Linked DNA regions of Homo sapiens: all the other regions are linked to region 2. The links come from fine-mapping of genetic effects on gene expression. A gene starts in region 2. Each other region holds a variant in brackets. All regions are shown on one strand. Distances are from middle to middle.

The links. PIP is the estimated chance that this variant, and not a neighbour inherited with it, causes the effect. A credible set is the group of variants that fine-mapping cannot tell apart.
Region 1: its variant is the best candidate, but not a certain one, in a credible set for the expression of LMBR1 in lung (TOPMed, PIP 0.82).
Region 3: its variant is the best candidate, but not a certain one, in a credible set for the expression of LMBR1 in whole blood (INTERVAL, PIP 0.86).
Region 4: its variant is the best candidate, but not a certain one, in a credible set for the expression of LMBR1 in whole blood (TOPMed, PIP 0.68).
Region 5: its variant is the best candidate, but not a certain one, in a credible set for the expression of LMBR1 in whole blood (INTERVAL, PIP 0.75).
Region 6: its variant is the best candidate, but not a certain one, in a credible set for the expression of LMBR1 in pancreas (GTEx, PIP 0.85).
Region 7: its variant is the best candidate, but not a certain one, in a credible set for the expression of LMBR1 in monocytes after Pam3CSK4 (Quach 2016, PIP 0.75).

Annotation. Positions count from the first base shown.
Region 1 is chr7:156,930,348-156,934,416 of GRCh38, forward strand. No RefSeq gene overlaps it. Among named protein-coding and RNA genes, the nearest start is that of NOM1, 17 kb to the right of the region's middle. The variant C/T (reference allele first, on the strand shown) is at 2,202.
Region 2 is chr7:156,890,964-156,895,032 of GRCh38, forward strand. LMBR1 (limb development membrane protein 1) reads right to left here and starts at 2,220. Exons shown (of 17, transcript NM_022458.4): 1 at 1,965-2,220. The coding sequence starts at 2,030. LOC102723795 (a long non-coding RNA gene) reads left to right here and starts at 2,435. Exons shown (of 4, transcript XR_928253.3): 1 at 2,435-2,700. RefSeq lists silencers at 1,312-1,811, 1,862-2,441.
Region 3 is chr7:156,776,048-156,780,116 of GRCh38, forward strand. The region is part of intron 5 of LMBR1 (limb development membrane protein 1); the gene reads right to left. Among named protein-coding and RNA genes, the nearest start is that of LMBR1, 120 kb to the right of the region's middle. The variant T/C (reference allele first, on the strand shown) is at 2,091.
Region 4 is chr7:156,678,238-156,682,306 of GRCh38, forward strand. LMBR1 (limb development membrane protein 1) reads right to left here. Exons shown (of 17, transcript NM_022458.4): 17 at 1-4,069. Among named protein-coding and RNA genes, the nearest start is that of RNF32-AS1, 20 kb to the left of the region's middle. The variant C/G (reference allele first, on the strand shown) is at 1,563.
Region 5 is chr7:156,825,555-156,829,623 of GRCh38, forward strand. LMBR1 (limb development membrane protein 1) reads right to left here. Exons shown (of 17, transcript NM_022458.4): 4 at 1,051-1,190. Among named protein-coding and RNA genes, the nearest start is that of LMBR1, 66 kb to the right of the region's middle. The variant A/G (reference allele first, on the strand shown) is at 1,889.
Region 6 is chr7:156,804,725-156,808,793 of GRCh38, forward strand. All of the region lies in intron 4 of LMBR1 (limb development membrane protein 1), which reads right to left. Among named protein-coding and RNA genes, the nearest start is that of LMBR1, 86 kb to the right of the region's middle. The variant C/T (reference allele first, on the strand shown) is at 2,261.
Region 7 is chr7:156,706,079-156,710,147 of GRCh38, forward strand. All of the region lies in intron 15 of LMBR1 (limb development membrane protein 1), which reads right to left. Among named protein-coding and RNA genes, the nearest start is that of RNF32-AS1, 48 kb to the left of the region's middle. The variant T/TA (reference allele first, on the strand shown) is at 1,956.

The sequences.
Region 1 (4,069 bases), 39 kb after region 2:
CCTTCTCCCAGTGGGAAGTGCTGGGATTACAGGTGTGAGCCACCGCACCCAGCCTAAATGCATTTTTAAAGTGTTATCTGTAAAACATCATACAGTTAAAAATGACTTTTTTAGATGACAGTTCTATGAACTCTAACACGTGTACAGATATGCGGAACCACAGCCACTGTCAGAACAATTGTACTCCAAAACAAGAAAACGGGCTGGGTGCAGTGGCTCATGCCTGTAATCCTAGCCCTTTGGAAGGCCAAGGCAGGAAGATCACCTGAGGTGAGGAGTTTGAGACCAGCCTGGTCAACATGGTGAAACCCCATCTCTACTAAAAATACAAAAATTAGCCGGGCATGATGGCAGGCGCCTGTAATCCCAGCTACTCGGTAGGTTGAGGCAGGAGAATCGCTTGAACCTGGGAGAAGGAGGTTGCAGTGAGTGGAGATCGTGCCAATGCACTCCAGCCTGGACGACAAGAGCAAAACTCCATCTCAAACAAAACAAAACAACAATCAGTTTGTGCAGTTTACAGCCTCTCCATCACAATGCTCTCCAACATCCATGAGAAGGTTTAATAACTTTAAAAGCAAAAGCCCTGTTTTTAAATTCTTGAGAAGCAAACTAGTTTTTTGGTTTTCTATCTGGTACCCTCCAAAATATAAACCCATTAAGTGTAGCTTCCAAGTAACCTGACCTCAAGCAATCCTCCTACCTCAGCCTCCCAAAGTGCTTGGATTACAGGCGTGCGCCACCTCGCCTGGCCAGTACTTCTTGACATTACCAACATCGTGAGTTCAGCCCTTAAACAGGGTTGCTTTGTATGATCAATTAGATGCCAGGACTGGTCTGACAAGAATACCTATTTTGATGTTGGTTGGCATAACTAATACTTTGCTGTTTCTGTTGACAATGGTTGACCGGTAGGTTTAGTTGCTCTTTGAGGCCTGCTGAGAACTCAGCCATGGCCCTGTATCATCAAGATGGAGGATCATCTCTTGCTTATTTAATTTTAGAGGCCATAGGACCAGATTGGCAAAGAACCATTCCAAAATCTTTAGCTGTATAGGCTGAGTAGGTCAGAGCCATCTTAACATAGTTAAACATGCCGTTTGATGTCAGAAGGCTATTCCTACCCACTCTGATTTTCTTGGTGACATTATGATAAAGGCGAAAGGTACATTAAAAGCTTTGGATCTATACTGGGGTCGTAAAATGTCACCCATAGACAGTTCCTGTCTAGGGATTCATTTGCCAGACAGATCAATAAATGCTGTGAAAAGTTCTACAATAAGTATTCCCAACCAGCTGTTCTGCAAAGCACCCGTGAGTGTACGCTAGTGAAACAGTAAAATGTTTCTGTAATTTCAGTATCAAATATATAATTTACTCAAATAGAATAAATTGGTTTTCAGGAAACTTAATTGAGAAACGGTGTGTTAGACTTGCCTTGTTTTCTAGGATAAAATCCTGATAATTACCACTGCCTGAGAGCCAACCCCAGAGAGGCGGATGCTGGAGATTTTACTCCTCAGTGTGGGGGTTAAAACTTGCTATGTAGTGATGGTACAGTGTCTGTCATTGAGAAATGCCTTTATTATGGCAAAAATCCAGGTATTTCCAACTCACCAGGAAGAAGACAAAATAAGCAAATGTATCTTGGTAGATGTTTACTCTTTGAATGTCAATAAGAATTTCACTCTGAAAGACAGCAGGTTTCCATTGTCCTCAGACAGGCAGCAGACAGCTGGGTCAGGAGCCGTGCTAACAAGTGAACCCAAGGTGAGGGAACTTTCAGATCCACACTCAATCTCTCCAACAGGAAGCATCGCTTTCCTGGCAACGGAAAGATTAATCATACATTGCACCAGGGAGAGACGAAGCTTGGTAATGTGAGACTGTGATTTACAATGATCTCCTGATTTATTGTTGTGTATTTTTAAGCCATATTATTTAAAATGCAGCTAATTTAAAAGCTAGTGTTCAGCACCGCGTGACTGCTGCTAAAGATCTACTCTCTGCTGATAAGAGAAGCACCGTGTTCTGTCCACTTACTCCCAGGTCCCCACAGCAGATCCAACCTCTAACAAAATCGCCTGTCAGGCGACGAATGTTGCTTTTCTTTGGGAAGTTATTATTTCTGTCTTTTTGTGTGTGTTTCCAATGCAGTTTATTTTTATTTTTATTCTTTATTTCTTAATTTTTTTTTGAGG[C/T]GGAGTCTCACTCTATTGCCCAGGCTGGAGTGTAATGGCACAATCAGCTCACTGCAACCTCCACCTCCCGGGTTCAAGAGATTCTCCCACCTCAGCCTCCCGAGTAGCTGGGATTACAGGCGCCCACCACCATGCCCAGCTAATTTTTGTATTTTTAGTAGAGACGGGGTTTCACCATGTTGGCCAGGCTGGTCTGGAACTACTGACCTCAGGTGATCCGCCCACCTCGGCCTCCCAAAGTGCTGGGATTACAGGTGTGAGCCACAGCGCCTGGCCTATTTCTTCCTGTTTTTTTTTTTTTTTTTTAGAGACAGGGTATCTGTCTGTCACCTAGGCTGGAGTGCAGAGGTGCGATCATAGCTCACCGTAGCCTCAGACTCCTGGGCTCAAGTGATCCTTCCAACTCAGCCTCCTGAGTAGCTGGAACTACAAGCCTGTGCCACAATGCCTGGCTTCAAATGCAGTTTAAATATTACAGAAGCCCACATAAGGACAGTACTTAATACTAACAAACAGCCTTGCTGGATGAATACAGTGATATATATTTTTAGTTTTACTTTAATTATTCTTCATCATTCGACTTCAAACATGTATTTTTAAAGGGGCCCTTTTGTAACCAGCATAACTGACACCACTTGTGTTACATGAAGCTCTTGCAGATGGTTCCCTTTAGTCCTAGCTTAGTTCCACAGATGGGCAATTCAGCCAACACCCTCATTTCATGGGTGAGGAAACTGACGTGTCCCAAGCCACACAACAGCCTTTGCTGCACTGCATTCCTGGTTAGGTGGGCACTTACTGAGTCTACCATTTGCAGAATCTGCAACTCTACTTCTATGCCACACCAATTGCTGCCTTCTGGGATTTGGGAGGCATTGAATGAGTGGATTTTTTTTCAAGCTTAGGATAGTGCTTGTCTTATGGTAAACACACAATAAATGTTATATCCTTATGATGACTGCTACGGAACAATTAAAATCTATCCGACTTCATTATGTGCTAAATATGGTTACTACGAGACAACAGACTGTGCAACACTAAACGCGGTACTGCATGTAAATAATGTTTTGAAAGGACCTGTCAAACTTTTTCCCCAAAATTTACAATGTTGCAATGCAAATAATTAAAATGAAAAATAGACACGATTTCCCATGTGAACCTTGACATCCCCAACTTGAGCAATTTTTTTACTTTTTTTTTTTTTTTTTTGAGACTAAGTCTTGCTCTGTCACCCAGGCTGGAGTGCAGTGGTGGGATCTTGGCTCACTGCAACCTCCGCCTCCCGGGTTCAAGCAATTCTCGAGCCTCAGCCTCCCAAGTAGGTGGGATTACAGGCACCCGCCACCATGCGTGGCTAATTTTTGTATTTTTAGTAGAGAGGGGTTTTCACCATGTTGGCCAGGCTGGTCTCGAACTCCTGACCTCAGACAATCCGCCCGCCTTGGCCTCCCAAAGTGCTGGGATTACAGGCATGAGCCACCGCGCCTGGCCTTTTGTACAAATTTAAAACATCTCCAATCAACGGACAACCGCGTGTTTTCTGAAGGCCCTTATGCCAGGCCCTGAAAAGATAATTTCCAACCTTAGGGAGATCGAGAATGGGGAAGAAAAGACTCCAGGGCAATTTTCTTCAGGGCAATTTTTTTTTTTTTTTTTGAGACAGCATTTTGCTGTTGTCACCCAGGCTGGAGTGCAATGGCACCAGCTCGGCTCACTGCAACCTCCACCTCCCAGGTTCAAGCGATTCTCCTGCCTCAGCCTCCCAAGTAGCTGGGATTATAGGCGCCTGCCACCATGTCCAGCTAATTTTTGTATTTTTAATACAGACGGGGTTTCACCATGTTGGCCAAGCTGGTCTCAATCTCCTG
Region 2 (4,069 bases):
GTGGATCACCTGAGGTCAGGAGTTCAAGGCCAGCCTGGCCAGCATGGAGAAACCCCGTCTCTAATAAAAATAGAAAAATTAGCTGGGTGTGGTGGTGTGTGCCTGTAATCCCAGCTATTCAGGAGGCTGAGGTAGGAGAATCACTTGAATCCCGGAGGCAGAGGTTGCAGTGAGCCGAGATTGTGCCACTGCACTCCAGCCTGGGAGACAGAGCGAGACTCCATCACAAAAAAAAAAAAAAAAAAAAAATATATATATATATATATATATACACACACACACACACACACACACACATATATACATACACATATATATACACATATATATATTCATAGCCAAAACCTAGAAACTACTGAAGTGCCCATCAACAGTAAAATGAAAAATAAATTGTGCTATAGTCACACAACTACTGCACCGAGAATGAATTATAACCACATACAACATGGAGAAATTTCACAAACATTGTACAAGAAACTGGACACAGAAGAGTATATACGGTAAGATTCCATTTACATAAAGTTCAAAACTAAGCAAAAACTAATCTATGATATTAGAAGCCAGGGCAACGTTTACCCTTGGTGGAGGAGAAAGTAATTGGAAGAGGGAAAGGAATCAGTCTCTGGGATCCTAGTAAAATTGTGTTTATTTATTTATTTTTTTATAATGGTAGAGATGGGGATTCACTATGTTGCCCAGGCTGACCAGTCTCAAACTCCTGGTGGATTCAGGAGTACACAGGCGTGTTTAGTATGAAATGATCTGAAGGGTACATGTATGATTACATGAACTTATCTCTGTGTATTTTAGCTTCAATTATAAAAATTACAACTAAATGTGTACCAAATTCCACTAACTCAAATTCCACCAGCTCAGACTTTATATGTCCTCTTTATTCAAAGTATGACTTCCAAAGTGATTCTCAATTTTCAAGATCAGTGAGTACACAAATTAGATAATTCTAAAGCAGAATTTTTTCACCTCAAACCAAGTGTGACTGAATCGTAGACAACTTAGGAGAGGCGTAAATATAAACATAAAAAATTGACATATTTTACAACAGTTATGAAAACACAGATAAACCCAATTACAATACATTCTAGAGCATCATGAAAAGATAAAAACATCAAAGTAGACTTTCCAAGGTCAAGTCCGCTTCCTGACTCCTGCCAACAGCACACATGGAACATGGGCCAAAAAAGAAGCTGCTTCCCTAAGAAGTTGCTTCCATAGCAAAATGGACTTTTGCTGAGGTCCTCACTCCCAAAAATAACCAATATTCTCATCCCAAACGGTAAGGTTTCGAACTCAACCCACGTGGGGGCTGGGGGAGATGAAAGAGGGATGGAAACGTGAGGCGCCAGGAGGGCAGGAGGTGTTGACCGGGACAAGGTAACCGGCCGGGTCCAAACGCGAGAGGCGGGCGGGCTCCGCGCAGCCCGGCCCTTCCCGGACCCGCCGGGCCCACCCAGGCTCTCCGGGACGCCTGCGCATCCACCTGCCTACCTGGCCTGGCGGCGGAGCGCGGGGGCGCGCACTGGCGGGGCCGCCGTCCACACCCCGAGGCGCGAGCCGCACACCCGCCCAGAGAGGAAGCCCCTGGGGTCCCAGAGCGCGGCGCGCACCGCAGCCCTCCCCGCGGGAAGGGAAGGGCAGCACCGAGGCCGCGGGGCGGGGGCGGGGTCGGGGCTCGAACGGAGGGAGCGCGAGGGGGCAGGGGAGGCAAGAGCGGAGCGGGGGGGCAGGCAGAGGAAGCGAAGGGGAGGGGAGGGGAGAGGAGAGGTGGGGAGGGAAGGGGAGGGGAGGGGAGAGGAGGGGTGGGGAGGGAGAGCGGCAGAGGCCGGGGCGGGAGGCGCGAGGCGAGGCCCGGAGGTGAGGGGTCCGGGGACCGGGGGCCCGGGGGCGGGGACGGAGGGCCCGGGCGGGCACGCGGGACTGTCAGGGCTGCCTCGGTCCCCACGCACCGTGGACTCCCGCACTTGGCTGTGGAAGTGCTGCTCCCGCGCCGACACCTCGTCCTGCCCTTCCATCCTCCTTCATGCCCGCCGCCGCGCCGCCCGCGTCCGCGTGCTCCGCCACACCATCGTCCGCCCGCCGCAGGGGCTCGGACAGCCGCGCCGGGGACCGGAGCCGGCACGGGCCCGCGAGCCGTGTTGGAACAGGTACCGCGACCACGACACCGGCCGTCGCCTCAGCAGCCTCAGACGAGCAGCTCTGACTAAGGGAGGGCGGGCGCCGCGCAGTCGGGGGCGGGGCGGGGGCGGGGCAGGGAGGGGAGGGGGCGGTGCAGGCATACGTCAGACGAAAGGCGCCGATGCGTCAGAAAAGCGCGCCTCGCGGTCTTCCGAGCTGCTGGGCCGGGAGGCGCTGAGGGGGCGGGGCCTTGAGGTCGCGGGGCGGGGCTCCGCCCACGCTCTCAGGGGCTACCCCAGTTAAGGAGGCGCTGTCCTGGCGTCGGATGGGGACGGGGAACGCGGCGAGGGCGCTGCGACCTCTGCCCACCTGGCCCGGCCGCAGTCTCGGAGTTCCTGTTCCTCACAGGAGCTAATTATTTATGACAGCTGCATGGTTCCCCTCCCCCAGTTACTCAGTGCTTGGCACTCGGCACCCCTTACTCAGCACTCAGTACCGCACTCGGCCTCAGGGGACCTGGGCAGAGGGAAGCAGGGAGTCTCCCGCGGAAACTCTTGCTCTGCCAAAGTAGGTTGAAAGGTCGGAAATCGGTGGTTTGGGGCCGGGCTTTGGGCGGAAACCCAGCTTCTCTGGGTCTGAGAAGGGTCTTGGGCTGCCCCACCTGGAAAACGCAGATAACCGAGCTCGCTAGACCCTTGCCAAGTCCTTCCGGTAGCTCGGTCACTAGGGTCAGTTTTATGACTCTCAGTGGACCCTAAACAGCACGTAATATATGTATTTTTCACCGCCAAATATATCAAACACAATAATTCACCCTCCGTTCCCTATTATCTTTCTTTTTGTTATAAAATTTGAATTTAAGGGAATGTTTATAATTTTACCTTAGGATTTATTTGGCTACGAGGAAGTCATTTAAATTGCTAGTGGCTGCGATTTTTGTTTTTGGCATCTTTGAGAATTCTTAGGAAGTGTGAAAATCTACAAATTGCTTTCAAATGTCATTTAGTTTTTGTTTTTGTTTTTTTTTTTTTTGAGACAGAGTTTCACTCTTGTCGCCCAGGCTGGAGTGCAATGGCGATCTCTGCTCACAACAACCTCTGCCTCTTGGGTTCAAGTGATTCTCCTGCCTCAGCCTCCCGAGTAGCTGGGATTACAGGCGCCCGCCACCACGCCCAGCTAATTTTTGTATTTTTAGTAGAGACGGGGTTTCACCACGTTGGCCAAGCTGTTCTTGAACTCCTGACCTCAGGTGATCCGCCCACCTCGTCCTCCCAAAGTGCTGGGATTACAGGCCTGAGCCACCGCGCCCGGCCGTTGTTTAGATTTTTATGAATCTAAATTTAACAGTCAATGAAGTTGTTGTAAAGTTCTTCAAAGACAAATATGTGGTAATTTAAACCTTGCCGTTTCTCTTCACAATTTTGAGTAGAGAAAATTTTTTCACAACTCAAACTTCTTATGGTGCTTGGCGAAGTTGGAGGCCCCGACACACGGTTTCTATGAGTTCACTATAGCTGAACATTGTGGTGGTGGGAGAACTTAGAGAACCTGAGGCTTGTTCTCAGCATGTGCCCTGCTGCCACAGGCTGATTGATCATAATCCAAGAACAACTGTCAACTGGTTAAATTCAACGTTCACCTTTATTTTTTAGAATGTCTTGGAGCCCTAAAGAACCTGGATAATTTCTGGGTTAATTCTCTCCAAATCAGAGGGCAAGCAGATTAGATTTTAAAGTGTATGGCATTTAAACACAGATTCCAGAAAGTGAATGCATGTAGTATTCCTCATCTTTTTAATGCAATACTCCAACCATCTAGACCTTTTGATTTTCTTTTATGCAATCATCCCTAGAGGTTTACCCACCACTGGTACTTGTAACACTTAACCCAGGGTAGTCAACTTCAACAATGGCCACGTACTCACCACTCCCTATAC
Region 3 (4,069 bases), 110 kb before region 2:
TATGAGTTATATATATTATATATGTAAATTATACATATTTTATACATTTTTATATATGTAAATTATATATATTTTATATATATATATGCTTAGGACAATATCTGGTTCTTAGTAAACACAATGTAATGGTTCACTATAATGACTCAAACTATTACCTTTGTCTCTGAAATTTCCAAGGCTTGGGAGTTCACATATCATTTGTGTTTCTAAATTAAATGTATGCCACCTTCTAATGCCATCCTATCACTCTCTTCCCAACTTTGTTCCCGACCATCTACAAACCTATAAGAAGCAGTCCCATCTTTCTCCATGATATGAGCACCTGGTTCACAAGTACTTCTTATCACATCCCCTGCCCTCGTAAGTAACATCCTAGCTCATCACCTCAATTCCAGTGAGATTCATTCCCATTCTACAGTAGCCACCCACACATGCATTGATCCTATTCCACCATCTCTCAGGATCACCTCTAAGAACTCCAACTTTGAAACTGCCCTCTTAGTCCACAATTTCCTGTCTTTTCTTGTCCCCTCAGTGCCCTAGCCTAGCTCTGCCTCCACATCCTCAGAACCTTCACTCCCTTGTTCCCTCCTAATCCTTCCAACCAGTCTTCTCTTCCCTGGCCTCAACCCCATGGTTCACTAGTGAATTTTGATGATGAGCCAGTATCAACAATATTCTGGAGCTCCCTGAACCTTTGGCTTCCACCAGGCCAGCTTCAACAATCCCCTGGCGCCTACTCCTTGATTCCCAGCCCTGTCAAAAAAACTTTGTATTATACAATCATGAGAAAGTTTTACTACGACATTCCAAAGTGGGCCTTCAATGCTACTTGGCAATCTTTATACTGATCTCTGGCTGACTTTAGCAATTTTCACAACTTTTTTTTTTTTTTTTGGTTTTGAGATGGAATCTCGCCTGTCGCCCAGGCTGGAGCGCAGTGGCACGATCTCGGCTCACCGCAAGCTCCGCTTCCTGGGTTCACGCCACTCTCCCGCCTCAGCCTCCTGAGTAGTTGGGACTACAGGCGCCAGCCACCACGCCCAGCTAATATTATCTCTGTATTTTTAGTAGAGATGGGGTTTCACGGTGTTAACCAGGATGGTCTCGATCTCCTGACCTCATGATCTGCCCACCTCAGCCTCCCAAAGTGCTGGGATTACAGGCATCAGTCACCACGCCTGGCCTTTCACAACATTTTTTAAAATGTTTTCCTTTCTTTTTTATCTATAATCTCATCCTCTACTTCCTTCCAACTACAATTGACTTTCCTCTACCTCAGTAGGACACAGCTGAGTGGGGTCTGTGAGTCCCTCACCTTCCCTCCTCTACACCTTAGCTACTGTTTCCATTTCTAATTCTTTCGTTCTATAAAAGAAAATACCTTGAATCCCTTTTCTCCTGTGGCCCAATCTCAGATGTTCATCTTCTCACATGTCATATCAGTGCTTCTCAAATGTCAACCTGCATCATAATTACCAAGGGGCCTGCCAGTTCCTGAGCATCAACCACAAAGTGGTGACTCAGTTGATTCTGATGAAGACGGTTCACAGATATACTGCTCAGTTTTTACCTAAGTGATCTTGCCTCTTCCAATAGCCAACAACTCTGAAGTTTATATCTTTAGTCCAAATCTTACTGCTGTGGCCAAGAACCATATACACCAACTGCCGTCTTTCATTAGACATCTCACCAGTACCTTAAACTTAATTCTAAGACCAAACTCATCATTTTATTCTCTATCTCTGCTCCTCCTTCAATATCACATACCTGAAAACATGACATCATTACCCACTTTGTTGTTTATGCCAGATACTTTGGAAACACCCTTGTCACCTACCTTTCCTGCTGAACCCCATACCCTACCCCCACCATACACCCTGAGCCTCGGTCCAGTCAAACACCAAGTGCTTCTGATTCTACTGTGTAATTACAACTCAAATTCATCCCTTCTTTTCCTACTGCCACCATACCCATCCAAGACGATGATTTTTCTATTATAGGTACACAAATAATAACAAGAACTGTCTGAAATACATACTCACATGTTTAAGCAGTCCATTCAGAAACATTTAGCCAAAAGAACTCTC[T/C]GTAGTCAATCATATAAATTGTTCAAAAAGTTATTTCAAATTAGTCAATATTTCTTTTGAAAGTCAGTAAATAACTCACAAAAAGAAATCTGCTCATTTCTAGTTATCGATCTACATTACAAGAGTAAATCAACAATACTAATAGAAAAGGCTGCCACGGTACAAGCCATCAAAATTATTTAATATGATTATGCTTGTCCTATGAAATATTAAGATAACTGATATAGTAAGAAAGAGCTGTTATTCTGACTTAATCCACTGGGAGGCTAGGATAGTTAAGTTTTCCCTTTTGTTAATTTTATTTTCTTTCTGTGATTAAATGAGACAAAACCTGTCCAACTTAAAATCAATTAAATACCACATGCGTGAGCTTTACATAAACCTTTTAAAAAGATAAATATGTTCATTAAATGCAAGGTGGCAAATTTTTTACCTTCAAAAACTTTGAGCTAGAGAGAAGAGAGATGATGAGACTATAGTCAGAAATTTCATTTGTTAATTCAGCTTCCACTAGTAAATATACAAGTACTCAAAATCTATAAGCTGTTATCACTATCTTTCTTGAGATCATAAAAATATTACCAAGCTTCAAGAACACAGCCTTTATGGCATGCCATGTGTGAGATTGTTAGACTTTTGGATGCCATTCTGACTACAAAGTAATGAAAAGCATTGTGAGCACTTTTATCACCACCATTAATCACCAGCAGCACAGCATATAAGCAAAAAATATGCCGACTGCTCATTTTTCCATTAAGGGTCAGAATCAGGAGCTAGAAAGCCCCGAGGGGAAGCTTCCTATCAACTCCATTCTTGCATATACTGAGCTAAAAGATGTACCAGATGTCAGAATAACTTATTAAAATGCGCTTCAAACAACAAAGTGGCAAAACACTGTAAACAAGGAAGAAGGTCTTCATTGTTCCTCTAGTGAAAAAAGTCTCCTGAATACAAGATCACAGGACTATAAGAACTTCTATTTATTAATCAATAACTGTACTTCCTTCACCTAGTTTTGAATGCTTAGATTATGTCATATATCACCAGGATTTCATGAACTTCACAATATTTTTATTTCCCAGTATGAACACTTATCCTGCCATCCCCCACAAAAAAACCCGTTAAGTTTAAATTACTTTAGCGAAACTCCTTCCTTCTGATTAAAATTGCAGTATAATAAGCAGTCAGTATATTAGAAACACCACTGAAATTAAGTACTTTTCTGCCAATGAAACATGAGTTGTTTTGAGTAAGCTATAGAATTAATCACGTTATTTCATACCAGCATTTTTTGAAATTACAACAACCTCAATATTATAAAAGGTTAAATTCGATGAAATAGATTAGTAAAGACTAAACACTTGTAGACACACAGATTTCTTTTAGATTTAAATGGGAACTAAATGGATAGTCTACTACACTCAAATGGTTATGATATAATTGCTTCTTGGAATTTTTGTGCTGGTCAATTATACATTTAATTCACATCAATGAAGTGAAAATTACAATGTACTTACAAAAGCTCTATGGAGAAGCTGTCATGTTTCTATGGTGATGAACATTTAAACAAGGTTTTGCCTGGACATCTTGCCCTCCTGTAAGGGATGTAAAAACCACTTCATACACTATGTCTCTACCCATTAGGAAGCCTGGGAAAACTTCTACATTCACAGAACATTTAAAATAAATATCAAGCTATTGTTTTCACTTAACAAAAAGGGTCTCTCAGTAACATTAAAATAAGGTTTGCTCAGCATGGCATCAAGATTGCACCAAACATATACACAGTCATCAGGGGAAGATCGGTAGAAGTACTAATAAAGAACAGAAAATAAAAGCAGGTATTAATTATTTTATTTTAAGCCATGAAAAAACTACAAATAAGCATCTCTAGAGAGTGTCAAACATTTCTCCCTTTGCTCCCAAGTAATCATTAAGAGCATACACGAAAAAGCTTTGGTCTCACGTCAGAGAAAACG
Region 4 (4,069 bases), 210 kb before region 2:
GCAACAGATACTTAGGAAAATCGGTGGGATGAAAGGCAGGAATGGTCATCTAACTTCACTGAGGATGAGGGTCGCGAAAATCCCATGAGTTCTGAGGAATGGTCCAGGGCAGCCTGTGACAGTTAACAGAAAATCAGGCAATTTTCTTACTGAAAAGTGGCCATGGAATGGCGCGCCCATCGAAAGCTTGCGAGACCAAGTTGCAACCACAGAACGCTAAAAAGGACCTGAATGAAGTAGCTACTTCTCTGGACAATTTGAAGATAACGCCACATTGTCAGGTCAAGTCAGGAAAACAGTGCAAGCTTTTATACAATTACTCCACAGCCTCATCAGGTCTCTTCTATAAAAACTGGGACACTGACCAAGAAAGAGTGGGGCCTTTGGAAACATGAGTTCATGGGAGGACTCAGCGGACAGGGAGAGCCCTGTCTGCTGCCCTCATTGTGTCTTCCTGGTCAGCTACAGCAGTCCCTACGGGATGTGGCCATTCCTCCCTTATTTTAACAGGTTGGAACCCACTTGTCTGACAGTCACCTTGCAAGATGAAGCCACTTCTTGTGCCTTCTCACACATCCCTTTTTGCCTTTAAATCCACTTAATTAGGAGCCTACCATTCCATGGGCGGGGGGAATCATTAAATCACTATCAAGTCCAGAAAGAGAATTCTTAGCGAATTGTGGGACTGGAGGCATTTGATAAGAATAAAGGTTATAATCTAGAATGAGGATACCTGTCATGAATCTTTATCAACCAGATAATAGAACTGTAAGGTACATGAATGAACAAGAAACTGAAAACCTAAAACAAAGAAAAAATGAGACTGCGGTTGTACTGGCCTGTATTTACATCCAGTTCATCTGCCCACTGTAAGCGTGACCCCAGGCAAATGTCTGCAGCTTTCTCAGTGGCGTTCCTTGTCGGTAAAATGCAGATGTGTATTTTCGGCTTCGCAAGGTGGTCCTGGGGGTGACTGTGGGACGACAAAGAACTCGACCCTCCACACCACGCCCCAGGCCCCTCTCACCACCCCTGCTTCCAAGTCTTTGATGAGATTCCACAGTAAAGACTAAAAAGAAAAGAAAAAGTGAATCACTCTTCAGACTGAAGGATAGCCAGGCCAGAGAGGTGGCGAGGAGGAAGTGAGCAGGAGGAGGACGATGCTCCACTTGTCACTTAGTTCTCTGACTCTACTGTGGAGTCCATATAGAACAACTGTGGATGACTTCAAGATGCTGTTAAAGAGAAGTTGCAGAATCAATATAAATAGCTACAGCAGTATCAAATATGCTTGGTTCTGAAGTGTCAGTGTTTGTAAGCGGCATCGTTCATTCAGTAACAGCTTTTCAAAGGAAAGGAAAGGAGAAGACATTACAACAGCCACAAAACAGTTTTAGTAACTGTTAAAACTTCAGTTCTCAGACCCATAGCCCACACGTGACTCTCCACCTCCTCACACTCAGACACAACAGATTCTTCTACATCACTCTAGTCCTCCACAACCACTCACATCAGGGCCGCCCTGCTGTTCATAATCCAGGCTCATAAACTTGACTTCTGTA[C/G]CACCTTTAGAAGTAACAGCAGAACACCAAATCCATATCCAAGAATAATGAGGTTTTGTGTGAAGTTCCTATTTGATTATAGTTAACCTTGAAAAAATTTTTTCCTAATTAAAGAACACAGAATTGGAAGTTAAATAACTTCTCTTGAAAAGGTAAGTTTATTGCCTAATATTCCTTCAAGACATATGGATCAATCACCAAGTTTTGAAATTTTGTATATATTTGTGAGTTTTAGGAACTTCTCCTGATATTACATTTTCTACAGTGCAACAAGTAATTTGCGTACACAGTACTTTTGCTTCAGTTGTGTTTGCAGCAATAATTTTTACCTAAACAATATTCAAAAACCAAAAAAAAAAAAAACTCCAAAAAGGTCTTTGTATTATTTCTTCTTTTAAACCACATTCCAAAGGGATGCTTTTCAAACTGAAGTCTGCCATCTATTAGGAGGCCACAAAGTAACTTAGTGTCTGTGTCTAGTATTTTTAAAAATAATAAAACAGAAGATGCCAGCATGCACACTTAGGAAAAACAAGTACTGTCTTGTTAAATTTTTGCTTATACGTATCTGAGAGACAGAGAGAGAGAGAGAGAGAGAGAGAGAGTGTGTGTGTGTGTGTGTGTGTAATGGGTTATTTCTTACTGTGGTCAAAAAGTTGAAAGCCACTGTAAGTAGGCTTCTGTCTGCCAGTAAATTAACCAGATGCTAACAGCATTTATTCTTCCAGGAACTCTGGGTTAAGCTGTCCAGACCACAAGTAGGTGCTGTTCAGTCCTTTTATGGAAAAAATTAGAGAAATCAAGTCTAAATAATTCAAGTAATTAAATAAAATACATGCTATCAATTATTGATGCTACATTGTGGGTTATAAGAAATTGATCTACCAATAACTGCACAACAGAGAAAGAAAATATCCATTTCTTAATTCAACATTCATCAGAATAATTACTGCCCTCTATAAAACTGAAATGGAATTAAACTATAAATACCCTTAAGTTTTAGCCATGATAATATTTAAGATGGAAAAAACAAAAGAACAAATAAACCCCACATATAAATGCTTATAAACCAAATATGAAATCACTTTTTGTACAACTTTTAATTTCTAAGACATTTAAAAAGTCACACTAAAAGTATCTCATAGAAACAAAGACTAACAATTTGTAAACAAAACAATCTGTAAACAAAAATCAATTACTAGTGTGTCCAAATGTTATTTTTAAAAGTTAACATTATACCAGTTTTTTCAAGTTTAAAAAGTCGGTGCTGCATCTATGTTCACATTAAAAAAAAAAACTTGTAAGAATTCTGCCTTTATGCATTAAATAACGTGCTACCAACAAAACTAGCACATAAGAGCCTGTAAATGATGAAAACCTGTGTCCCTGGCAGACGAGGTCATCACTGAGGCTGCAGGGAGGGCCATGGGCACCCAGCAGATGGGGAGGCCGCACTGCCGCTGAGAGCAGGTACACGTGCGCCTTTAACACATCTGAGAGCAAAACGCGAGAGGCTCCGTCCATCTCTACTAACCAGCACCTTAGTGCAGCAATTTAAGGAGCTAACATTAGTGTGTATGTGTGTACAAATTTCATGTAAAGCCTCATATTTAGAGGTCTATTTTTACAGAGAATGTACATAAAGCTACGTAAATAGTAAATCTAAGAAGTATCTTGGAAAATCAGTAAAAATTAATACAAATGTTATAATCTGAAAACTTATAATTGTAAAATAATTTATTTAAGTATTGCAGAACCAATTAATAAGAATCTGCAAGTTTTCCCCAAGAAACTCTGGAACCATAGTGCCTAATGCCCTTTAAAATCGATACTAAAGGAGAGAGAATAAAAGGACTGCTTGATGTGACAGTCACTGGTGCATCCCTATCCAGTCAGAAACAAAACTGTAGCTCCAGAATTGACCTGATGATGAGCATCTGCAGCTCTGCCTTCCAGGGTCTATCTCCTCTCTTTCACTGGCGTGCAGGAACTGCAGTAAAATGAGGACCCCCAGAGCGACTGTCCTTACCAGGACTCAGAACGTTTGGCCTCCGTATTCTGGCATCCATTTCTGGAGTTCGTCATATAAAGCAGCCTCCGACCTAGCTCCAATGGAAGCACCTGCATTTGGAGTCAGTCTCTCCAGAGGCAGATGCTTGGGCATGTGCTCAGGAAGAGCCTCGAGGAACCGTGATTACGCAGCAGCCCAAGGCTGTAACAATCTATTTGTTCTCAAGGCATATGAGTCCCAGGTTCGAAGCCGTCCTTCCACCCCATGCATATCCTTTGCTTCAACAGCAGTGAGGATGCCTCCAGGAAGTGTATTGTACTCAGGGCTTACAAATCCAAAACTGGCTTAAGTCCTCGGATGGAGAGAAACTTCCAAATGAACAAAAAGTTGAGCTAAACACTGAAAAGTTTAGTATTTTACTTAAAAATTTTCAGACATTTTCCAAGTATCTAGGAACTCTTTGGATGTGCCTGAAAGTGGTGTAAGTGAGAAGTGA
Region 5 (4,069 bases), 65 kb before region 2:
AAATTAAAACATTAAAAAATAAAAATAAATTAGAACTCAAAAAAGAATTATGCCAGCATGTTCTATGAGAGACAAGAGTTCAGTTTACATACACTAAATTGATTTGTAAAAACAGTAAGATTCTTCAGAAAGAAAACACCTCACAGCCTAAATAACTATCATAATAGCTACCACCTATTAAGTGCCTACTAAAAGACAATTACTTTACATACATCATTCCTATTGCAAAAACAAGCTGGGTTTTATTTATCATCCCAACTAAGACAACAGGAAGCCGCGGTGAGAGGACAGTGGCTTTCCCAAAGACTACAAAGCAATACACCATGATATCTATTTGTACTTGACATAGAGTGTTTTTCCCCTTCTATATTTTGAAATGACTAAAGAAACTACTAGCAAATAAATAAAATAGAAACTATAGCTGCTGTTTTTTAGTTCTTTTGAGATGGAGTTTCACTCTTCTTGCCCAGGCCAGAGGGCAATGGTGCGATCACGGCTCACTGCAATCTCCACCTCCCAGGTTCAAGTGATTCTCCTGCCTCAGCCTCCCAAGTAGCTGGGATTATAAGCGCGTGCCACCATGCCTGGCTAATTTTTATATTTTTAGTAGAGACAGGGTTTCTCCATGTTGGCCAGGCTGGTCTCGAACTCCTGACCTCAGGTGATCCACCCACCTCGACCTCTCAAAGTGCTGGGATTACAAGCATGAGCCACCACGCCCGGCCAGTTTTCTAGTTCTTAAATGGAGGTTGAGTTCTTCTGACATAGTCAGATAAACCAAAATACTCTAGCTAAATACTGAAATGAAAATGTATTTATCAAAATCATAAGTATAAACACTGCTTCTTAACTAAGAGAAAAGTCTTTCACAACTAATTAAACATAGAAATGATAAGTAAAATCTGGTTTTCTGACATTATTAAAGACCCAAATCGTTTACTGGAGGAAGTCACAAATTATGAAGAAAACTGAGAAAAGAAAAATCTAAAAATATGGTGCAGTAAAAAATTAAAATATTAATTGTGATTATATTAAGCAATATATACTAACCATGAATCAGGGAGCCATTTAGCCACTGAATATAGTAGTTCTGAGGAAAAGAAAGCAGGATTTCATTGCTGATGATTGAGAAGGGTAAAAGCAAAACAGCCCCAGCTGACACTGCGAGAGTGAACGTGCTCAAAAACAACCTGGAAGAAAGGAGAGTCACCATCACAAGTGATCTGAAAAAGCAATGAACACGAAAGTCATCAAAAAGAATGCAAACTCTTTAATGTTTTAATCAAAAAAGCATTATATTAAGAACTTTATTAAATATATGTAGTTGGGAGACAAATGATATACATATGGGCCTAGAAGTTAAACTAGATAAACTCTAAAACTCCTTACTCTATGAAAAGGTCAGTAAGTCTAACAAATAGTACCTAAAAGATAAAGACATACTGAAGACACAGTACTTCACATATTTTACAAAGAAAAAATTGTAGTTCATTCCTCTTTTAAATGTAAGTATTTATTTCACAATTGCATTTAATTAACAACTTTGACAACATATGCTAACAGCAATGCAACAACTGAGGTGAAAAAATTACTATGAAAGCAGTATAAAAAAACAAATTAATTTAAAATGTTTATTTCAGAGGAAAAAAAACTTAGAAAGCCATTGGCCTGACATCTTTTTAATGGGTAAAGATTAAATAAATTATAGTAATAAAAAACAGAAAACTATTAAACAGTATTGTACTATTAATATTTAAAACACTACTTTGTCATAAAAAAGATAGCTTTAATAGGTACTAATATGGAAGAATATCTAAAATAAGTCAACAAAATAATGAAGAAAAGCATGGACAATAAATGTAAAACATGTTCTCCCCCCACCAAATGC[A/G]TATTTATACAGAGGTACAAAAAAATCCAGCATAACATGTAACAATCCCATAGGAAAGAGGGATTATAAGGTGCTTTCACCTTCTCAGTTACACATTTCTGAAACATTTTTATTTTCTACAAGAAACACCTAACTTTTTAAAAGATTTTAAAAGGATAAATTGGCAAAGGAAAAAAGAACTTCACTAATATTAGAGATAGAATGGATATTAAAGTTCTATTAAAGTTAATATTGGAAGAAAGTAAAAATAAATATAAGAAAATATTTTTTAAAAGCAGGAAAAAAAAATACTAAATACCCAAAAACACATCTAACAGAGAAACTTTGAGGCCAATGCCATCTTGTGGCAACCAACAGAAGTGTATTCCTACTTCAAAAGCCAAAAATAACCAGGAAACCTCCTTGGTTTAGTAAATCAATTATAAATTTTAAAATACAGACCATATGATACTTAAGAAAAATACAACTGATATCAGATACAGAATTTCTGTGAATTCATTTTGCTCAATAGACACCGCATTTCCTGGGAAAAGCCCTCAGACAAGTGCTGTCTCAGGTCCGCAGCCAGCTCTGGCAGCGACCAGCCAGCAAGCGGTCTCCAGCAAGCTTCTCCAGTCATGGGAGGAAGCTATCCTGATTGCTATCATTCCTTCCTATGCTAAAATTGAGATCAAATCCAAAATCTCACCATTCCAGGTCCCACACGGCTATCCCAAGATAATTTTCCAGGCTCTTCTCTCACTATGACCCATTTCGACATACACTTAGACTTACCTAACCCCCTCATAGCCCAAACATGAAATGGATTTTCAGGGTTCCTTCTTGCCCCTCTGCACAGTCTACTCACTCCCTAGAATACCCTCTAAGTTGCATGGCAAACTCATACATGAATTTCAAGACAGACCCTAAACATCATTTGCCCTGTGAAGCATTCCTCAACTTCACCTTCTGAAATGGAGCATTATTTTTAAAAATTACATCTTCAGAGTAATGCATCTTTTCTAATTGTGGTAGTAAGACAAGTGTTTCCCCAAATATCTGACATTTGTGACTAGGTCCTCAATCCAACCAGGAAGACAGAACCTTTGTCTAAATAAAATAAGGTGATGAGGGCATACACTCAGATGCTGAATATAACTAGTCACTGAATATAACTAGTGTAAAAAAAAGCCATATCTACAGATCATATTGTAAAGTGTCTTTGCAAGGTGATGATAATTAAAACAATAAAACCACCTTAAATCACTTTAACACTCCACAAAGCTTTCACATACTTTCAGTTAGCAAACAAGGACCAGGATCCTTGATTTATGAGTCTCTCATCTCCTGTTCTTAACCCCCATCATCAGTGATGTGGGATATGATGAGGTTTCTCTTCGAATAATCTGATCAATCTTTTACTCTTTAATTCATGGTGCCCCACCCAAATTTTCCCTTTTCCTCCTTTTTCCTTTTTGCCTTTGTTAGATGCCCAGGCACACCACAGTACCAGGCGTTATCAGTACCAGCTCACATTCCTTATTTGGAAAGAGAACTTTCTAGCTCATTAGACGCCCCTTTCCCTTTCCTCTCCGCTTTTACGTGCCTACCTTATCTAAAAAAAATCAAACGTTTAGCCAACTGGGATTAGATTGTACAATCCGACCCCAGCCAACGGGGAAAGCATACAGGGGCAGGACTTGCGTCAGGAATAAAGGCTCTCGTGCCCCTTTATTCAGGTGTGCTCTCATGGCGACTGGCCAAGGAGACACCCCTCTGCGCAGAAGTAAAATTGCTTTACTAAGAATTCTTTGTTTGAGCGTTCAATTTCCTTAGGATTTTCAGTGTTATTCCTAACAGTGATATGGTTTGGATATCTGTCCCCTCCAAATATCATGCTGAAATGTGATCCCCCAGTGTTGGAGGTGGGGCCTCATGGGAGGTACTGGATCGTAGGAGCAGACAGACCCTACAGTAATGAGTGAGTTCTCATTCTGTTAGTTCACAAGAGAGCTGGTTGTTTAAAGGAACCTGGCACCTTCTCTTCAATCCTGATCTCCCTTCACCTTGCACCATGAGTAAACGCTTCCTGCGGCCTCACCAGAAGCCAAGCAGATGGCAGTGTCATGCTTGTACATCTGCAGAACTGCGAGCCAAATAAATCTTTCTTTATCAACTACCCAGTTTCAAGTGCTCCTTTAT
Region 6 (4,069 bases), 86 kb before region 2:
TTATGGGCTCTGAATACAACTCCTTTATAAGGTATGTGATTTGTCAATATTTTCTCCCAGTCTGTAGACTCTCTTTATTCTCTTAACAGTATCTTTAAAGAACAAAATTTATTAGAAGTCCAATTTATCCATTTTTTTCTTTTATGGATTGTGCTTTCGCTATCCTACCTAAAAAATTATGGCCTAGTTCAATGTTACAAAGACTTTCTCCTACATTTTCTTCTACAAGTTTCATAGTTTTAGGATTTACATTTAAGTCGATGATCCCTTGAGTTACAGTTTGCGAATGGTGCCAGGTATGGACTGAAGTTCATTTTTTGCCTATAATTAAAAAATTGTTCTAGCACCATTTGTTTAAAAAAAAATCATCTTCCCACTAAATTCCCTTGGCACCTTTGTCAAAAATCAATTGACAATATATGTATGTATCTAATCCTGGACAGTCTATTCTGCTGATTTGATCTGTTTATCTTTATGCTAACATCATGCACTTTTTTTTTTTTTTTTTTTTGAGACAAAGTCTTGCTCTGTCATCCAGGCTGGAGTGCAGTGGCACGTCTCGGCTCACTGCAACCTCCGCCTCCCAGGTTCAAGCGATTCTCCTGCCTCAGACTCCCAAGTAGCTGGGATTACAGGTGCATGCACCACACCAGGCTAATTTTTGTATTTTTAGTAGACACAGGGTTTCACCATGTTGGTCAGGCTTGTCTCGAACTCCTGACCTCAAGTGATCTGCCTGCCTTGGCCTCCCAAAGCGCTGGGATTACAGGCATAAGCCACCGTGCCCAGCCACACCACACAGTCTTGATTACTGTAGCTTTAAAAGAGTCTTTAGGTCAGATGGTCAATCCTCTAACTTTGTTATCTTTCAAAGTTGTTTAGGCTATTCTAAGTCCATAGAATTTGCATCCGAATTTTAGATCAGCTTGTCAATTTCTACAAAGTATGCTGGAATCTTGACAGGCATGGTGTTGAATCTCTATCAATTTGAAGAGAGCTGACCTCTTAATATTGCTGTTACAGACTGAATGCTTCTGTCCCCACCCCCAAATTCATAACTGAAACCCTAATCCTCAGTGTGATGGTCGTTAGAGACAGGAGCCCTTGGGGGTAGTTAGGTCACAAGAGGGCAATCCTCATGATGGGATGGTGCCCCTATAGGAGGAGACAGAAGAGAGTTTGCTTTCTCTGTCTCTGCTCTCAGCCATGGAAGGATGCGAGGAGACAACCATCCGTGAGCCAAGAATAGGGTCCTCATCAAGAACCCAACCATGGTGGCACCCTGATATGGGACTTTCAGCCTCCAGAACTGTAAAAAATATTTGTTTTGTATTGTAAGCCACCCAGTCTATGGTATTGTTATAGCAGCCCAAACTGATAAAGTGTCTTCGAATCCATGAACACAGTATCTGTCTCCACTTATTGTGGTACTCTTTAATTTCTCTCAACAATGTCTTAGTTTATAGTACTTAGGTCTCACGCATCCCTAAGTATTTCGTATTTTTGATGCTATTGCATATAAGTGATATTGGGTTGTAAATTCAATTTCCAATTATTAACTGCCAGTATATAGAAATATAATTGTTGTATATTGATCTTCTATCCTGCAGCCTTGAAGAATTTACTTACTGGTTCCAATAGCTTTTTTATAACAGATCCCATCAGAATTTCCGCATAGAAAATATCATCTGTGAAATAGTTTTACTGTTTCCTTTCCAACTTCAGTGACTTATTTTTTTTAAAAAAAACCTCCAGAATGATGTTACATAGAAGTGGTAAGAACAGATGTCCTTGCCTTGTTCCTGATCTCAGGGGGAAAGCATCCAGTCTTTCACCATTAAGTATGATGTTATCAGTAGGTTTTTTGTAGATGCTTTTTTTTTTTTTTTTTTTTTTTTTTTTTGAGACGGAGTCTCACTCTGTCGCCCAGGCTGGAGTGCAGTGGTGCGATTTCTCAGCTCACTGCAACCTCCACCTCCCAGGTTCAAGCAATTCTCCTGTCTCAGCCTCCCGAATAGCTGGGACTACAGGTGCACACCACCATGCCCAGTTAAGTTTTATATTTTTAGTAGGGACAGGGTTTCACCACATTGGTCAGACTGGTCTCGAACTCCTGACCTCAGGTGATCCACCCGCCTCAGCCTCCCAAAGTGCTGGGATTACAGGCGTGAGCCACTACGCCCAGCCTGATGCATTTTATTAGGATGAGAACATCCCATTTCAGGCCTACTTTGCTGAGAGATTTTACCAGAAATGGATA[C/T]TGAATTTTGTCATATGCTTTTTCTGCATGTATTGTTACGACCATATGACTTTTTTTTTTCTAGCACGTTAATAAAATCACATGGATTGGCATTGCAAAAGTCATGATGTATTATCATTTTTATACAGTGTTACATTTGATTCGCTAAAATTGTATTTAGAACTTAAGCATCTATGTTCGTGACACTGGCCTGTCATGAAACTTTCAGTTTTCATGTATTGTCTGCCTGGTTTTGGTATGAGGGTAATGCTGACCTCAGTGAATTAGGAAATGTTCCCACATCTTCAATTTTCTAGAAGAATCTGTGCAGAACTGCTATTATTTCTTCCTTAACTATATGATAGAACTGACAGTAAATCCTCCTGGCCTAAAGCTTTATTTGTGAGAATGTTTCTAACATTCCCAGAATATTTGAGAAGGCTTTAATAGTTTTTGCCTGTTAAGGAAATTTGTCCATTTCTCTAAGTTGTTGAATTTGTTGGATAAAGGTGTTCATAATATGCAATTATTATCCTTTTAATCACTGTTCAATATGTAGTGATGTCACCTCTCTCATTCCTAATACTGGCAATTGGTCTCTTCTTTTTTGCTGATCATTCTGGCATTGTTTATCAATTTCAGTGTTCTTCTTGGTGATTTCCTGTTTTCTATTTCATTGATTTCCTCTCTCAAGATTTTTAAAGAAAGATTTCCCTTCTTTGGGATCTATTCGTTGACTCTGCAGAAACTGATTTGAGGCCTTTTTTCTGTTGTAATACAGGTATTTCGTGCTATACATTGACCTTTAAAAACTTTTTAGACACATCCCGCAAATATTAAAATGTTTTATTTTCATTTCATTCAGTTCAAAGCACTTTCAAATTTCCCTTTTGATTATTCTTTGACCAGTGAGTTATTGTAAAGTATGTTATCAATTACCAAATACTCAGGGATCTTCTAGATTGTTTCTAGGTAAGTTTTCTGACACTTATTTAATTTCATTGTCCTTACAGAGTGTATCTTGTATGACTTAAAATCCTAAAATGTATTGAGACTTATTTTATGGCAAAGAATGTGATCTCTCTTGGTAAATGCCCACATTGTACTGGAAAAGAATATGTATTCTATTCTTGGATGTTCTATAAATGTTAATTAGGTCAAGTCAGTTGATAGTATTATTCAAATCTTCTATATCGTGATTTTTTCTTCTATATGTTCTATCAATTATTGAAAGAAGGGTGTTGAAATATCTGAATGTAATTGTGATTCTGACTACACTTTCCGTTTTTGCTTCATGTACTTAATATATGTCATTAGGCAGATATATGCTAAGTATCATTAGGCTCTTTGGGTGAACAAACCACTTCAACATGATGAAATGATCTTCTTTATGACTGGTAATATTCTTTGCCCTTGTCTGATAATCATATAGCCACTCCAACTTTGCTCTGTTTAAAATTAGCATGGTGTATCTTTTTTCTCCTACTGCCATTGACCTAGTTTTGTCTTTACAGTGGGTATCCTGCAAGCAGATATACTTCAGTCTTGCTTTTATATTCAATTTGATAATCTCTGCCTTTTAGTTGTAGTGTTTAGAACATTACATTTAAAGTGATTATTGATATAGTTAGCTTTAAATCTATCAACTTGCTTTTTGTTTTCTATTTGCCCCATGTGTTAGCTTCCCTTCTTCTATGTTCCCACAGATTAAGTATTTTTTATGATTCTAGTTTATTTCCTTTGTTTACTTATTCACTATATCTCTGTTGGGCTATTTCTGGTTTGTCTTCAGGTTTATCATATACGCCTTTAACTCATCACAATCTGCCT
Region 7 (4,069 bases), 180 kb before region 2:
CCACACAAACAAAAAAACAAACAAGACCAGGAGTAGTTATACTGACACCAGATAAAACAGACTTTAAATCAAAAACAGTTAAAAAAAAAAAAAGACAACAAAGGTCATTATATAATGATAAAGGGACCTATTCAGCAAGAGGATATAACAATACATCCAAATATACATGCAGCCAACAGCACCAAGATTCATAAAACAAATATTACTACAGCTAAAGAAAGAGGCAGACAGCAATGAAATAATGGTGGTGGACTTCAACACCCTATTCATAGCTTATCGAGAAAAAAAATCAGCAAAGAAACACTGTACTTGGTGCAACGGACCTAAAACACATTTACAGAATATTCTGCTCAACTGCAGAATTTATGTTCTACTCATCAGCACATAAAACGTTCTCCAAGATAAACCATATGTTAAAACACAAAACAAGTCTCAACAAATTTTTAAAAATCAAAAATTTTCATGCATCAATATCACGAAATCAATACCAAGAAGAATTTCAGAAAACATACAAGTACACAGAAATTAACAACATGCCTCTGAATGACCATTGGGTCAAAGAATAAATTAAGTCAGAAATTAAAAAAAAAATTTTTGAAACAAATGAAAATGGAAACACAACATACTGAAACTTGCGAGATACAGCAAAAACAGTGCTAGGAGGGAAGTTTATGACATCAAGTGACTACATGAAAGATACTGAAAGATACAAATTAACAACCTAATGTCATACCTCAAGGAACTACAAAAGTAACAAACCAAATCCAAAATCAGTAGAAGAAAAGAAATAACAAAGATCAGAGCAGAACCAAAAAAAAAACAATAAAATAAAAACCAAAAAACAGTACAAAGGATCAGGAAAATGAAAAGTTGGTTCTTCGAGAAAATAAATAAAACTGATAAACCAATTGCTAGAGTAACAAGGGAAAAAAAAGAGACAACACAAAGAAAATCAGAAATGAAAAAGTAAACATTACAACCGATACCACAGAAATACAAAAGATCATCAGAGAATATTATAAACAACTATACATTCACAAAATAGAAAACCTAGAGGAAATGGATAAATTACTGGCTAGAAACATACAACCTCTCAAGATTGAACCGGGAAGAAATAAAAAACCCGAGCAGGCCAATGATGAGTAGCAAGATTGAATCCATTAAAAAAATCTCTCAACAAAGAAAAGCCCAGGACCAGATGGATTCACAGCTGAATTCTACCAAATGTACAAAGAAGAACTAATACCAATCCTCCTGAAACTGTTCCCAAAAACTGAGGCGGAGGGAATTCTTCCTAAGTCATTCTATGAGGCCCAAATCACTCTGATACCCAAACAGACAAGTACACTACAGACCAATATCCCTGATAAACACAGATGCAAAAACTCTCAATGAAATATTAGCAAACTGAATCCAACAGCACATCAAAAAGATAATACACCATGATCAGGCAGGTTTTATACCAGGAGTGTAAGGATGGTTCAACATACACAGTCAGTAAATGTGATATATCACACTGACAGAATTAAGGGCAAAAACCACATGATCATCTCCAAAGATGCAGAAAAAGCATGTGATAACTTCAGCATCCCTTCATGACGAAAGCCCTCCACAGATTAAGCATGCAAAGAGCATACTTCAAAATAATAAAGATCATATACAACAGTACCACAGCCAAAAATCATAAGAACTGGAAAAAGACAAGGATGTCAATTTTCACCACTCCTATTCAACAGAGTACTGACAGTTCTAGCCAGAACAATCAGGCAAGAGAAAGAAACAAAAGGCACCCAAATTGGTAAAGAGGAGGTTAAGTTATCCCTGTTCGTTCATGATATGATCTTATCTCTAGAAAAACCTAATGGATCCCCCCACAAAAAAGCTCTTGGATTTGATAAATTCAGTAAAGTTTCAGAATACAAAATCAATGTACAAAAACCAGTTGCATTTCTATA[T/TA]AAAAAAAAAAAAAAACTACTATCTAGCTGAGAAGGAAATCAAGAAGGCAATCCCATTTACAATAGCCAGAAAAAAAAAATTGGAGGAAGACGGCAGACAGGAGGCAGGACTAATGTGCAGTTCCCACTTGGAAGGACAGAACAGTGCGCGGAGACTCACACCATCAACTTTTGCTCCAAGAACCATTGTAGGATGTACCAGGAAAACAAAGAATTCACGAATCCTTTGAAAGAAGCAGCATATCATTGCAAATTCCATGAGACACAGGCAAAAAACTGAGTTCCCAGTGTGTGAGGTGGGGAAAACCTTCCTCTGAACACACATCCTCACTGTGGTAGCTGAAAATCCAGATAATGGGAAAAGGATTTAACCTTACTTAGAGTTGAAATAGATTCAGGGAGCCACACAAAAAATAAAAGCAGCATCAGTGGCAGGAAGAGCCCTGTAGGCTCTCCCAGTCTCCAGCTCAAGCCCAGGGAAGCCATCCCTGACTATATCTCACAGGGGACCTTGGGGAAGGCAGCCAGTGGAATTAGGGTGGGGTTACAGGATGAAAGAAGCTTCCAACTGAAATTTGTAATAACTTTGGGCACAAATTTTCTTGAGCAGAATTTCTTGAGCAAATTTTCTTGAGCAGAATCTGGTAGGGGGGCAGGGTGCAAATGGGAACTGCTGCAGATAAGAGCACAGAAGCCACCACGGACAGTGTGGGCAGATGGGGAAGGGCAAAGCCTGAAAGCCATGCTTGCTTTCTCAGCGGGGAAGCTTACGGCCTGGGACAAGGTCTGCGGCAGGGACTGCAGAAGAGAGACCAGCCTTGCCAACTGTGTGGGAGCTGGATGAGGCCTTTCACTACTGGCTCTCCCCAACTTCCCTGGCAAACTATATAACACAGCACAGGTGGCCAAGATCCCCTCTGGAACAAAACCCCATTGGCCTGAGAACCACCCCCCAACAACCACGGTGGCTGCAGCAAGCCCTGCCCAGGGAGAATCAGAACCCAGACCCACCTGACCTTGCCCCCAGCTGATGGTATTTCTCTACCTACCCTGGCAGCTGAACACAAAAGACATAAAGTCTAGGGAGCTTTATGGCCCCACCCATCACCTGAGAAACCAGAATACTTACCTTGGCCAACTTGGGGCAAGCTTAGATACCTCTACTACTATGGCAGCTGGAACTCTCTTGAAAGTGAGGCCAACCAACTGGCCAACCACATCAGGCCATTACAGCAACTCATGACAGAATAACCCTGCTCCCAGGAAGGAGAAAACAAAAGCTAATTCCACTGCCTGCAACATCCTGGCTAACCAGAGGTCCTGAGTCTGTCCACATGACACTTTCACTCCTGGCATAACCAGCATTTGAGAAAGCCAGCATACTAAACATACCTACAACCAGGAACTCTCACAGAGTCTCCATCACTCCCCTGCCAACTCCACCAAAGCAGATGCTGGTATCCACAGCTGGGAGACCCGAAGACAGACCACATCACAAGACTCTTTGCAGGCATTCCCCCGCACCATCCCAGAGCCTGGTAGCCCTGCTGGGTGGTTAAGCCCAGAAGAACAATAACAATCACTGCAGGCTGGCTCTCAGGAAGCCCCATCCCTAGGTGAAGGGGGAGAACACTGTATCAAGGGATCACCCAGTGGAACAAAAGAATCTGAACAGCAGGCCTTGGGTTCCAGACCTTCCCAATGAACTAGTCTACCCAAATGAAAAGGAACCAGAAAAGTAATTCTGGCAATATAAAAAACCGGGTTCTATAACACTCCCAGAAGATCACACTAGCTCCCTAGCAATGGATCCAAACCAAGAAGAAATCTCTGAATTGCCAGTTAAAGAATTCAGAAGGTTGATTTTTTTTTTTTTTTTTTTTTTTTTTGAGATGGAGTCTCACTCTGTCACCCAGGCTGGAGTGCAGTGGCGCGATCTTGGCTCACTGCAAGCTCCACCTCCCGGGTTCACGCCATTCTCCTGCCTCAATCTCCTGAGTAGCTGGGACTACAGGCGCCCGCCACCATGCCCGGCTAATTTTGTGTATTTTTTAGTAGAGACGGGGTTTCACCATGTCAGCCAGGATGCTCTCGATCTCCCGACCTCGTGATCT